Linked DNA regions of Homo sapiens: regions 1 and 3 are each reported to be linked to region 2. Evidence: microRNA targets listed by miRTarBase, many of them from high-throughput screens and not tested one by one. Region 2 holds a microRNA gene; each other region holds the end of a gene's coding sequence.
What was found. The annotated mature microRNA hsa-miR-661 reads UGCCUGGGUCUCUGGCCUGCGCGU and lies in region 2 at 1,611-1,634, opposite strand. An mRNA with a match to its seed (bases 2 to 7 or 8) in the 3' UTR can be bound and repressed. Matches are read on the target gene's strand: a 7mer-m8 pairs with bases 2 to 8, a 7mer-A1 pairs with bases 2 to 7 and ends in A, and an 8mer does both.

Region 1 (3,246 bases), not on the chromosome of region 2:
GTGGGGCCCTTATCGCTGAGTTTGTGGTCCCCCTTTTCTCTCAGCTGCGTGACTTCCTGTTGGTCTACAATCGGATGACAGAACTCTGCTTCCAGCGCTGTGTGCCCAGCTTGCACCACCGAGCTCTGGACGCTGAGGAGGTGGGGAACTGTGTAGGGAGGTTACGCTGCAAGAAGAGTTTAGCGGTAGACTGCTTCCCTCCTCACCCCACTTCCCGTACCTCTGGCCCTGGCCTTCCCACGACCCTCACCCCTAGGCTGGGCATGGGGAAGAAAGGAGGCGGACCCGACAGGGCACCTTTATCCTCCACTTAAACCCTATCTTCCTTCTAGGAGGCCTGTCTGCACAGCTGTGCTGGGAAGCTGATCCATTCCAACCACCGCCTCATGGCCGCTTACGTGCAGCTCATGCCTGCCCTGGTACAGCGCCGCATCGCAGACTACGAGGCTGCCTCGGCTGTGCCAGGCGTTGCTGCTGAACAGCCTGGGGTCTCTCCATCAGGCAGCTAGCCATACCCAACCCCAGGAAGGAAGGCCTTGGATGGACCCTCAGATTGAAGGACCCGGTGGACCTTGGGGTTGGTGAATCCTAAACAGAGAGAATTCGAGGTTGCCTGAAAGCTGGGTGTCCTTGCTCCTTTTCCTGGAGCCAATATACCCAGTTTTTACTCAGTTTGATTTATATTCTGGGCAAGGAAGCTTTGCCTACTTTATTGGCACAATCCGTTGTTCTGTCGTTTAGTGCATATCTGCTGGCTTCAGCCCTGGCAGCTGAGAAATTGTTTTCTATATGTAGAAGGAAAACCTGAGCATTTGCAGGCATCTGGTTAAAGCAGGGTCTGTGTGTACAATTTTAAAACGGGTAATATGTCATGCTCTTAGTTCATCTTCACAACAAAACTATGAGTAAGCGGTATTAGCCTCACTTAACAGATGAGGAAGCAAGATTCCAGAAAGTACCAGAAGGTCATTTTATACAACAGGAGATTGGTTCCTGCCCAGATGACAGAAAATGGGAGCTCTGTCTAGTTGTCCTTAAGTCTGACTGACTTCAGTGGCTCATAACCGTGAGCCAAGTATTTGTTGGTTCATAACTGTTGTTTTGTGAACTATGTCTTACATGTCTAGAGTTCTGCTGGATCTAGGGAAAGGAGGAGCTATCGAAGTACAACGGATCAAAAAACCACAGGGCTTTTGGGCACTGCCTCCTTGGGAAGTTAGTGGCCACAGAAGAGAGATGAAACCTGTAAGAAGTCTGGAGTCTTTTGGAACTTCAGCCATTTCCCCAGGTTGTTACTTTCTTAGTATGTACAGTCTTCTCAGGATGAGCAGTAAAACCTTTGAACAAAGGTCTGTGTGGTTGTCTTCACGGGCAATCAGGAAGGGAGAGAGCTGGGGACCATATTCTGCAATGCAGCCAAATCCGAGGAAGAGAAACTGAAGGGAGAAGTAGATGGCAATGGTTATGATAAAAAGGGATAAAACTAAATCTTCGGGACTTCTTTAATGCTACGTTAATGTTTCACTGCTCGTCTAGAAACTCCTAAATCCAGCTTTCTATCATCTGCCCCACATTGGTCCCATTGAGTACATTCTGTGATTTCTAATTCCAGCCTCTCCATTCTTTTCTCATTATTGCCTCCCCCGCCCCCCAACTTTGTGTAATTTACTTCTGTATTCAGCAGCCTGGATAGCATATCATTCCATCACCCCATTTTCTTGCCACCATTGGCCATCTTTTTGTATCATTCCACTTATTCTGTCTTTTCCATTCCTTCATTCAAACTGCTAGAGAAAAACAGTTGTGTAATGAATGCCACTAAATATTCAAGGCCTCCAACCTCAGCCAAGTCCTCACACCAACACGCAGTCACACCAACACACACCTTTATGGGTTCCTGGTCCATTTCCTTCTCTAATTACCATGGCAGTTATTTTACACCTCTACTGCTGTCCTTAATCCCATACCCCACCCTCATCAGGTGACCCTGTTTCCTTTTTTAGAGAAATTGAAGCTCTTAGACATTGGTTTCCACAGTAATAATTTTAAAACTTCTTACAACTACCTACAAAGCAGATGTTCTATCCTATCTACAGAGCAGAAAATTGAAATTCTCAAGTAGCAGACCCGGTATTAAAGTGCAGATCTGACTTTAAAGTCCATGTTCATTTTACACAGCAGGCTGCCTCTTAAGATAGTATTTATTGAGCACACACTTTGTGTAGGTTCTGATTTTGGTAGATGTCATGCTTTATATTAATCTTTACAACAACTATAAGTAAGAGGTATTAACCTCACTTAACAGATGAGGAAGCAAGAATCCAGAATGTGCCAGAAGGCACATTCTGCAGATTTCGTGCAAACATTTATACACAGCTTCTTTTTTTTTTTTTTGAGACAGAGTCTCGCTCTGTCACCCAGGCTGGAGTGCAGTGGAGCGATCTAGGCTCACTGCAACCTCCGCCACCCGGGTTCAAGCAGTTCTCCTGCCTCAGCCTCTCGAGTAGCTGGGATTACAGGCATGCGCCACCACGCCCAGCTAATTTTGTTTTTGTATTTTAAGTAGAGACGGGGTTTCACTGTATTGGTCAGGCTGGTCTTGAACTCCTGACCTTGTGATCCGCCCGCCTCGGCCTCCAAAAGTGCTGGGATTACAGGTGTGAGCCACCACGGCCGGCCTATACAAAGTTTCTTATTGAGAAAAGTGGTTCCAATCATGTTTTTTGCCCCCTTTAGCTGCTATCTCTTGAACAGAAAAGTTTGTTAGGAAGGTAAAAGTTGCTGACTAGGACCTTACCCACAGGGTGGCACTCTGTCCTTGGGAAATATAAATGCAAGTAAAACAGGTTTGAACTTCTTAACTTCCAGAAGATAGGAGGATGGGACCTGTGATACTGTGCTGCTGGTGGGAGGACCCTTCCACATCAACATTTGTGTGTATCCTTGCAATAAACTTCCATTGTGAATTATCTGTGCTTCCCGTCCTTCCATGTCACACAATAGTAATTGCTAAAGAAGAGCTAGGAGCATAGATCTGTCTGATTCTAAAGCCTTTGCTCTTTGAACTTTGAGAGCTTCTATCTGTACTTAACCTGCCTCTAGGCATGAAAAAACAAATGTCCCTCAGTCTGACCCATCTCTTAATCCCTTTCTTAAAATTTCAATCTCTTGTCCTGGTTCTTTCCTGTTTATAAATATGTTCAGTGTTCAGGAGAAAAACCTTATTCCTACCACTTTACCTTCCAT
Region 2 (3,246 bases):
GCCCCGCCCTGGGACTGCAGCAGGGTCAGGGTCTACACTGCAGGGTGGGGTGGAGGGGCAACACTGCTTTCACTGACATTCAGCTTGGAAACAGGAAGGGGAGGGCGCAGGGAATGAAGGGGCGGGAGGCAGGCGGCCCCTCTGCCCCGCCTCGAGTCCCTGGCAGCCACCAGCGGGGCTTACCTTGCTCGTCCTGCGCCCACCGACGTCCCCTGCGCCAGTGCCACACAGCGGCCAGGGTGACAACGTGACCCACAACCACCAGGGAGGGAAACAGGCTGCCCGAGGGCTCCATAGCCGCCACGCGGAGCCGCCAGGGCTGCCCTTCCTGCGCTGGGAACCGGCTGCTCCAGGCTAGACAGCCCCCTCCCTGCGTGCAGGGCGAGCGAGGGGGAGCGCCGGGACCGGAGCCTGCCCTGCCCGCAGGACCGCCCCATACGCGGCGGCAGCCCCACAACAGCTCCCGCCCGCCTCCTCTCCTCCTCCCTCCGCGGGTCCGGCCCTCGGCGCCTCCCCACCCTCGCTCCCCACCCGGCCGGCTCAGCTGTCCCTGCGCAGGGCTACTGACGCTCAAGGTTAGTTGGCCTTAACCCCTGCGTCCCCGCGGCCACACCCGCCGGGAGGAGGGGCCAGCCGCACGCCTGGCCAAGCCGCAGCCCCCCAGCACTGCCCGCGGCCTCGGCACACACCCTCCCTCCCTCCCAGCCTCCCCCTGCTGTCCCCACCAGAAGAGGGGCCCGAGCAGCCCACTCTGCCTCCAAGGCTGCCCTCTGGGGACAGCTGGCAGGCATGGAGGGATGCCAGAGCCCCCACCTCAAGCCTGCAGCTGAACCCACTGCACTCCTTCAACTTCGCCCTCCTCACCAGCCCCAACACCCCAAAAGTGAGACTGCAGACCAGGGCTGAGGGGGTCTGGGTGAGGGCACATGAGGCAGGCTGTGTGCAGGGCGAGGGACAGCGCCCCTGGCCTCCAGCCTCAGCCCCAGCCCTCTGGCCCCTGTCCCCAGCAAGGGGCCAGGATTTCACAAGGCTTTCAAGGGCTGCCCACCTACCGGGCACGATCTTCATCGGGGACGGTGGCAGGAGCCCACGGGGCAGACGGAGCGGGCCAGGGGTGTGGGAGGTCACAGGCCCCTCGGAGGAGGCACAAGCCACTGGCGGCAGCGTCGGGTGGGAGGAGGGCACGGCCGTGCTGCTGTCAGCAGCAGCTTGTGGGGGAGGGGAGCAGTGGGCAGGGGCCCAGGGGATATAAATATCCGAGGAGGGCGCGCAAGGACCGTCACCACCCAGACTTGGAACATGACGCACGGCGCCAGGGCACCCAGGCCCCGCTGCAGTCAGGTCTGGCTGGACGGTGCCACCCGACACCTCGGTCCCCCAGCTCCCACAGGGGGTTCTAATATAATAGAGCAGGGCGCGGGAGGTGCGGGCTCACGTCCCTGCAGGAGGCGGTGCAGTCCCCACCCACCTGCCCTGCCAAGCCAGGGGGTGCTCTTGGAAAGGCCACAGGGGCCAAGAGAAGAGGCCGCCCATTCTCCCAGAGGGCCCTGCGCAGGTCACTCAACACAGCACCTGGCCCCACCGGTGGCCGGGACAGCCACCCCAAAGTCACGCGCAGGCCAGAGACCCAGGCAGCCCGAAACCAGGGCTCAGGCCTGCGCCTGCCCCACAGCACAGCCTCTCCTGGGGTCCCAGGGATCTGGGATGGAGACGCCTCTCCTGGGCCACGGCAGGAGACTGGCCTGGCTCCACCCAGGAGTCCCGAAGCCCTGCTCTGTGGAAGGCCTGGGTCAGAGAGCCGGGCCACAGGCAGGCCCACAGCATATCCTATGCAGATCAGATCCCAATGCAGCCGGGGAAACAGGACGTGGGACACGCACAGTCCTGCTCCTCTTCCTGGGACCCCTGTCTGCTGGGCGCACCCCTCAGGCCCAGGAGAATGCACGTTGACGGTATACCCCATTCCACAGCGTCGCTCCTGGCACCACATGGAACCCTCAGCAAACCCCATGAAGTCCTATACCATGAAGGCCTCATACAGACCAGGAGCCTGAGGCGCCGCCTGCTGTCCCGCACGCTGCCATCTGAGCCCAGGTGGCCTCCAGTGTAGTTACCTCAGCCCACAGCAAGGCACAGTGAACCAGCCTGGCCCCGGGCCACTGGGCAGGCCACCCAGGTCCATGCTGGGAAGCCCGCGGACAACAAGAGGGCCGGGCCCACCCCAGCCTCCTGCTCTCCAGCCCCACACCTCAAAAACGTGCGGCCGAGGGAAATGCCTGCAGTGGCCCACTCTGGGCGGCCAGGGGTCGGGCGGGCCCAGGCAGCCCTGAGGGTCAGGGATACCCAGGCATGCCAGAAAGGGCCCAACTCCCAGCTGAGCCCAGGACAGCATCTGGCCAGCAGTGGGCAGGGGCCGACAGGCCGGACGTTTCAGCCCACTCCCTGCCACGTGCTGGGGAAGCCTCAGAGGAGCCTGACTCAATGGCCTGGGTGAGAACCAGCTCCTGGCGGGAGGAGTGCCCCAGGCTGGCAGCGGGCAGTTCTTCTACCACTCCACGGAGGTCCGGACAGGCCTGTGCTTCCGGGACACACATCACACACACCCCTGGGGCAGCTCCGAGAGGGGGCTGTGCCTATCCCTGCATCCCAGGTCTGACGGCACAGAACGGTGGACAACGGGAAGAGACAGGTCTGCCAGAGGCGGCCCCGGCCCTCTCCTCTGCCTCCCACAGCCCCCAGCTCTGCCTGCCCTACCTTGGCCCAGCTGAATCAGCTCCTCCATGCTGTACCTGTCCATGGCTGCCACACAGGCCAGGCTGCTCCGAGAGCCGGCAGGGAGGAAGGCGAGGCAGGAAGGAGGGAAGGGGTGGGAGGCAGAGGGAGGGCCCACTCATGCCCTGGTAGCAGCGGCTCCTCCTCGCAGCCACCCCTTAGTCAGTAAGCAGAGATGAAGCCCAGCCGACTGACGGGTCAGACCAGCCCAGCAGACCTGCCTGGGGGTGCAGGGGACTGGCCTGCCTGCAATCCCAGAGAGCCCTCCGGCCCCAGCCCACGGGTCTTCCCTACTGTTCCTGCCCCGCCCAGCAGACCCCCCGCCCAGCAGACCCCACCCTGTAGCCTCCCCTTCCCGCTGCAGGCCCCACCAGCCCAGCCCTGCCCTCCCACCCTCCCACCCACATTCCAGGCATCCATGTGCCCAGCGGTATTTCAGGAGCCAGGCGGGAGCAGAGCCCCAAACTGCCCACC
Region 3 (3,246 bases), not on the chromosome of region 2:
TTTTCTTCACCCTTGCTACAAGACACATGTATCATGCCCCAAATCTTCCCCTAGTTGTCACTGATAATTACTGTTTTAAAGCACTTGGAACCCAAGTGATCAGCCAGCACTGCAGTGTAAGATTCCAGAGGCCAATGTGAAGATTCCAGGGGCTCTGTGAAGGGTGGGCCACAACACAGCTGTTCCCAGCACAACTCAGTGTTTCCAACCTTCTTTTCAGTATTAGGATATCCAAGCCGCCTAGCCCGAAGCCCATGCCTGTCATCCGAGTGGTGGAAACCTGAGCTGCCTGGAGATGGTTGCTGCCATTGCTGCTGCCTCTGCCTCGGAGAAGCCCACTGCCCCTGTTGGCTGTTAACACTGCCTTTGACTTCCTGACTGTCCCCTGGCTGCACCCAGGACTTCGGGCTCCTGTGTCTCACCATTCCCAAGCCCCTGGCCACTCTAAGCTGGGCAGACGGAGCACGAGCACCTATTCAAGGCACTGCAGCCCTTTGGAAGACATTGTCCTGCAAGCAGGAGCCAGGGCAATATCTATATTCCTACAGTGACTATTTTTCTCTGTAGAGAGCCTCCCTTCTGTTGTAGACTGGACTCTGGCTGTGCCATAAGCCAGGCCTTCATCAGATTGGGAGAGGTGACAAGATTTGCCTCAGCCCTAAAAGCTGGAGACACAGATGTCCAGAGTGATTGGAGAATGTCCTGGGGGAATGAAGTTCCTTCCACAAACACAGCTCAGTTCTTAGCAACAAACTGTTTGTTTTTCTACTTGCTCCATCTGCAGCCTACGCTGCCCTGGCCTCCTGCAGACAGATAGTGGGGTTACCTGGCAAGGCCTGGTGAGAGCCAGTGAACCTAAGCTTTGACTGGGTGGCCTTGTCTTTCTGGGGAGGAGGGAATGTACATTCAGGGAGTAGCCTTTTGCGGAAAAATTCTCTAGGGCTACAGACAGTCATGTGTGACTTCTCTCTGCTGTGAAAACTCCCAGAGTCTCTTTAGGGATTTTCCCTAAGGTGTACCACCAGGCACACCTCAGTCTTCTTGACCCAGAGCCTGAAAACTGTTTTCACTGGGTTCCACCAGTCCCAGCAAAATCCTCTTTGTATTTATTTTGCTAAGTTATTGGTGGTTTTGCTTACATCTCATGATTGATATAATACCAAAGTTCTATAGCCTTCTCTTGCAGTATTTGGATTTGCTTGAAACCGGGAAAACTGTTCCCATTAGGCTTGTTAATGTCAGAGTGACACTATTATGAATCTTTCTCTCCCTTTCCTCTGCCTGTTTCTTCTCTCTTTCTCCTTCAAACTTGCTCTGCAGCTAAGGAAGGTGAGTCTACTTTCCCTGAGGCTTTGGGGTCAGAGTATATGTTGTTTGGAGAAAGAGGGCAATCAGGACTCTTCTGGGACCCAGATGAGTTCTTCACTAGCCCTTCTGAACCCCTTGCTCCATAATTGGTCTTTTATCCTGGCTCTGAATGACCCTGCAGGTCATCATGGTTTTCTTTTTTTATTGTTTTTTTTTTTTTCTGAGACAGAGTCTCACTCTGTCACCCAGGCTGGAGTGCAGTGGCGCGATCTCAGCTCACTGCAACCTCTGCCTCCCGGATTTAAGCGATTCTTCTGCCTCAGCCTCCCGAGTAGCTGGGACTACAGGTGTGCCACCACGCCTGGCTGATTTTTGTATTTTTAGTAGAGATGGGGTTTCACCATACTGGCTAGGCTGGTCTCGAATTCCTGACCTCAGGTGATCCACCCACCTCGGCTTCCCAAAGTGCTAGGATTATAGGCTTGAGCTACTGCGCCCGGCCCATGGTGTTTTTCTTTAGGGCTCTTCCTACAACCTTGAGAAGTAGATAGGCATCAGAGTATGGTACTATAGGAATCAGAAAAATTCAAAACAAATGTGGATTAAGTGTTTAGGCTCTATGTGGCTCACGCAGCCAGAATCCTTAAGTCTGTGTGTTTCTGTGTCTCAAGACTGGGCTCACATTCTGGCTTTGTCCATAACAATGCTCTGGGATTTCAGGGAGTTCCCTCATTTGTAAAATGAGGGGGTCAGAGCAGGTGATATCCATGTTTCTTCCCTTTCTGATATTGTTGTCTGTGGCATATTCTTTGTATGGCGAATTTAATAAATTATATTAATGTGTCTCTTTGACCTCCTGGTCTGGTTTCCTTTCACTTTTCAGGGAGGATGAAAGAAGAACATTTTAGTGCTTCTTGGAAGATGGGCACCCTGTTATCCACATGTGGGAGGTGTGGTCCAAACATCCCAAATGCCATGATATGAGGACTTTGTGGCATTTATAGAGGTATTAGAAGAAGCTCACCTCCGTGCTCTGAGTCGTGATTGTAGGAGGCAGCCCCTAACTTTAGCTTTGACCCTCTCTGGAGCAATGGCCTTGTAGGATCCCTAAGCCTGGCCGCATTGTGTCTCATTTGGAAGAGATAGAGGTAGAGTCCTGTGATTACATAGAGATAGAACAGCAGCACTGGAGGTAGATGAGTAACTGCATGCCTTCTGCAGAAATGAAAAGCACTCTGGAAATGCTGACTGCAGCTGTTCAAGGGGGTTCGTTTCTGGCTGTCTCTGGGCATCATTCAATTAGTCTCATGATTTTTTTTTTCCTTTCTGCCAAGAAGGCAGTTGACTGCAGGGCCAAATGGGGACATAGCTGAATTTACATGAATCTTCTCTGGGCCAAAGAAACCAGAAACACAACAACCCCTCATCCCTGGCTTGTTTCCTTTCTAGCTCCCATTTCTCTTCTTCAATTGAAAGAGTGTACATTTTTCTCTGATTTCTTCCCCCTTCTCCTGCTTCTCAGCCAATTCACACCACAGGCTTCAAACACATTGGAAACCTCTTTCCTTTGCAGACCCGGATTTGTCTTCTGACACCCGTGGCTCTCTTCTTTCTCTGGCAGTCTTGTTTGGCATGGCTAGATCTAGACTGTACTTGCTCTTAGAATATTAACAGGGTGGAAGCAGGGCGGGGTTGACCAAGGTGCCAAGAAGACTCACAGGGCTGGAGGAATACTGGAGTGAGTGTGCTGCCATACATGAAAGGGAGGCTCCCGCCGGGCCTCCTGTGCTCAGTGGGAGGAACCAAGATTTGGGTTGCAGATAATGGAGCAGTCTGGAGGCATTCCAGAGACTCGAACCAGGGGTCTAAGAGAGTCCTTGGACAAAAACATGCCACTGGTGTATATTTCCTAGAGTTTAGTTATGCCACAACCAAAGA

Region 1: the mRNA of TIMM10B is a reported target of hsa-miR-661. Seed matches in the 3' UTR shown: 7mer-m8 at 2,417-2,423.
Region 3: the mRNA of TUFT1 is a reported target of hsa-miR-661. Seed matches in the 3' UTR shown: 7mer-A1 at 1,022-1,028 and 7mer-m8 at 1,553-1,559.

Annotation. Positions count from the first base shown.
Region 1 is chr11:6,481,713-6,484,958 of GRCh38, forward strand. It overlaps TIMM10B (translocase of inner mitochondrial membrane 10B), which reads left to right. Exons shown (of 3, transcript NM_012192.4): 2 at 45-140; 3 at 333-2,969. The coding sequence ends at 509. Among named protein-coding and RNA genes, the nearest start is that of TIMM10B, 1.8 kb to the left of the region's middle. RefSeq lists an enhancer at 1-411.
Region 2 is chr8:143,943,596-143,946,841 of GRCh38, forward strand. MIR661 (microRNA 661) reads right to left here and starts at 1,684; the gene lies at 1,596-1,684. It overlaps LOC124902040 (a long non-coding RNA gene), which reads left to right and starts at 269. Exons shown (of 2, transcript XR_007061144.1): 1 at 269-575; 2 at 1,971-3,246. It also overlaps a transcript of PLEC not described here. RefSeq lists a silencer at 316-585 and an enhancer at 3,114-3,246.
Region 3 is chr1:151,581,424-151,584,669 of GRCh38, forward strand. It overlaps TUFT1 (tuftelin 1), which reads left to right. Exons shown (of 13, transcript NM_020127.3): 13 at 221-2,160. The coding sequence ends at 284. Among named protein-coding and RNA genes, the nearest start is that of SNX27, 29 kb to the right of the region's middle.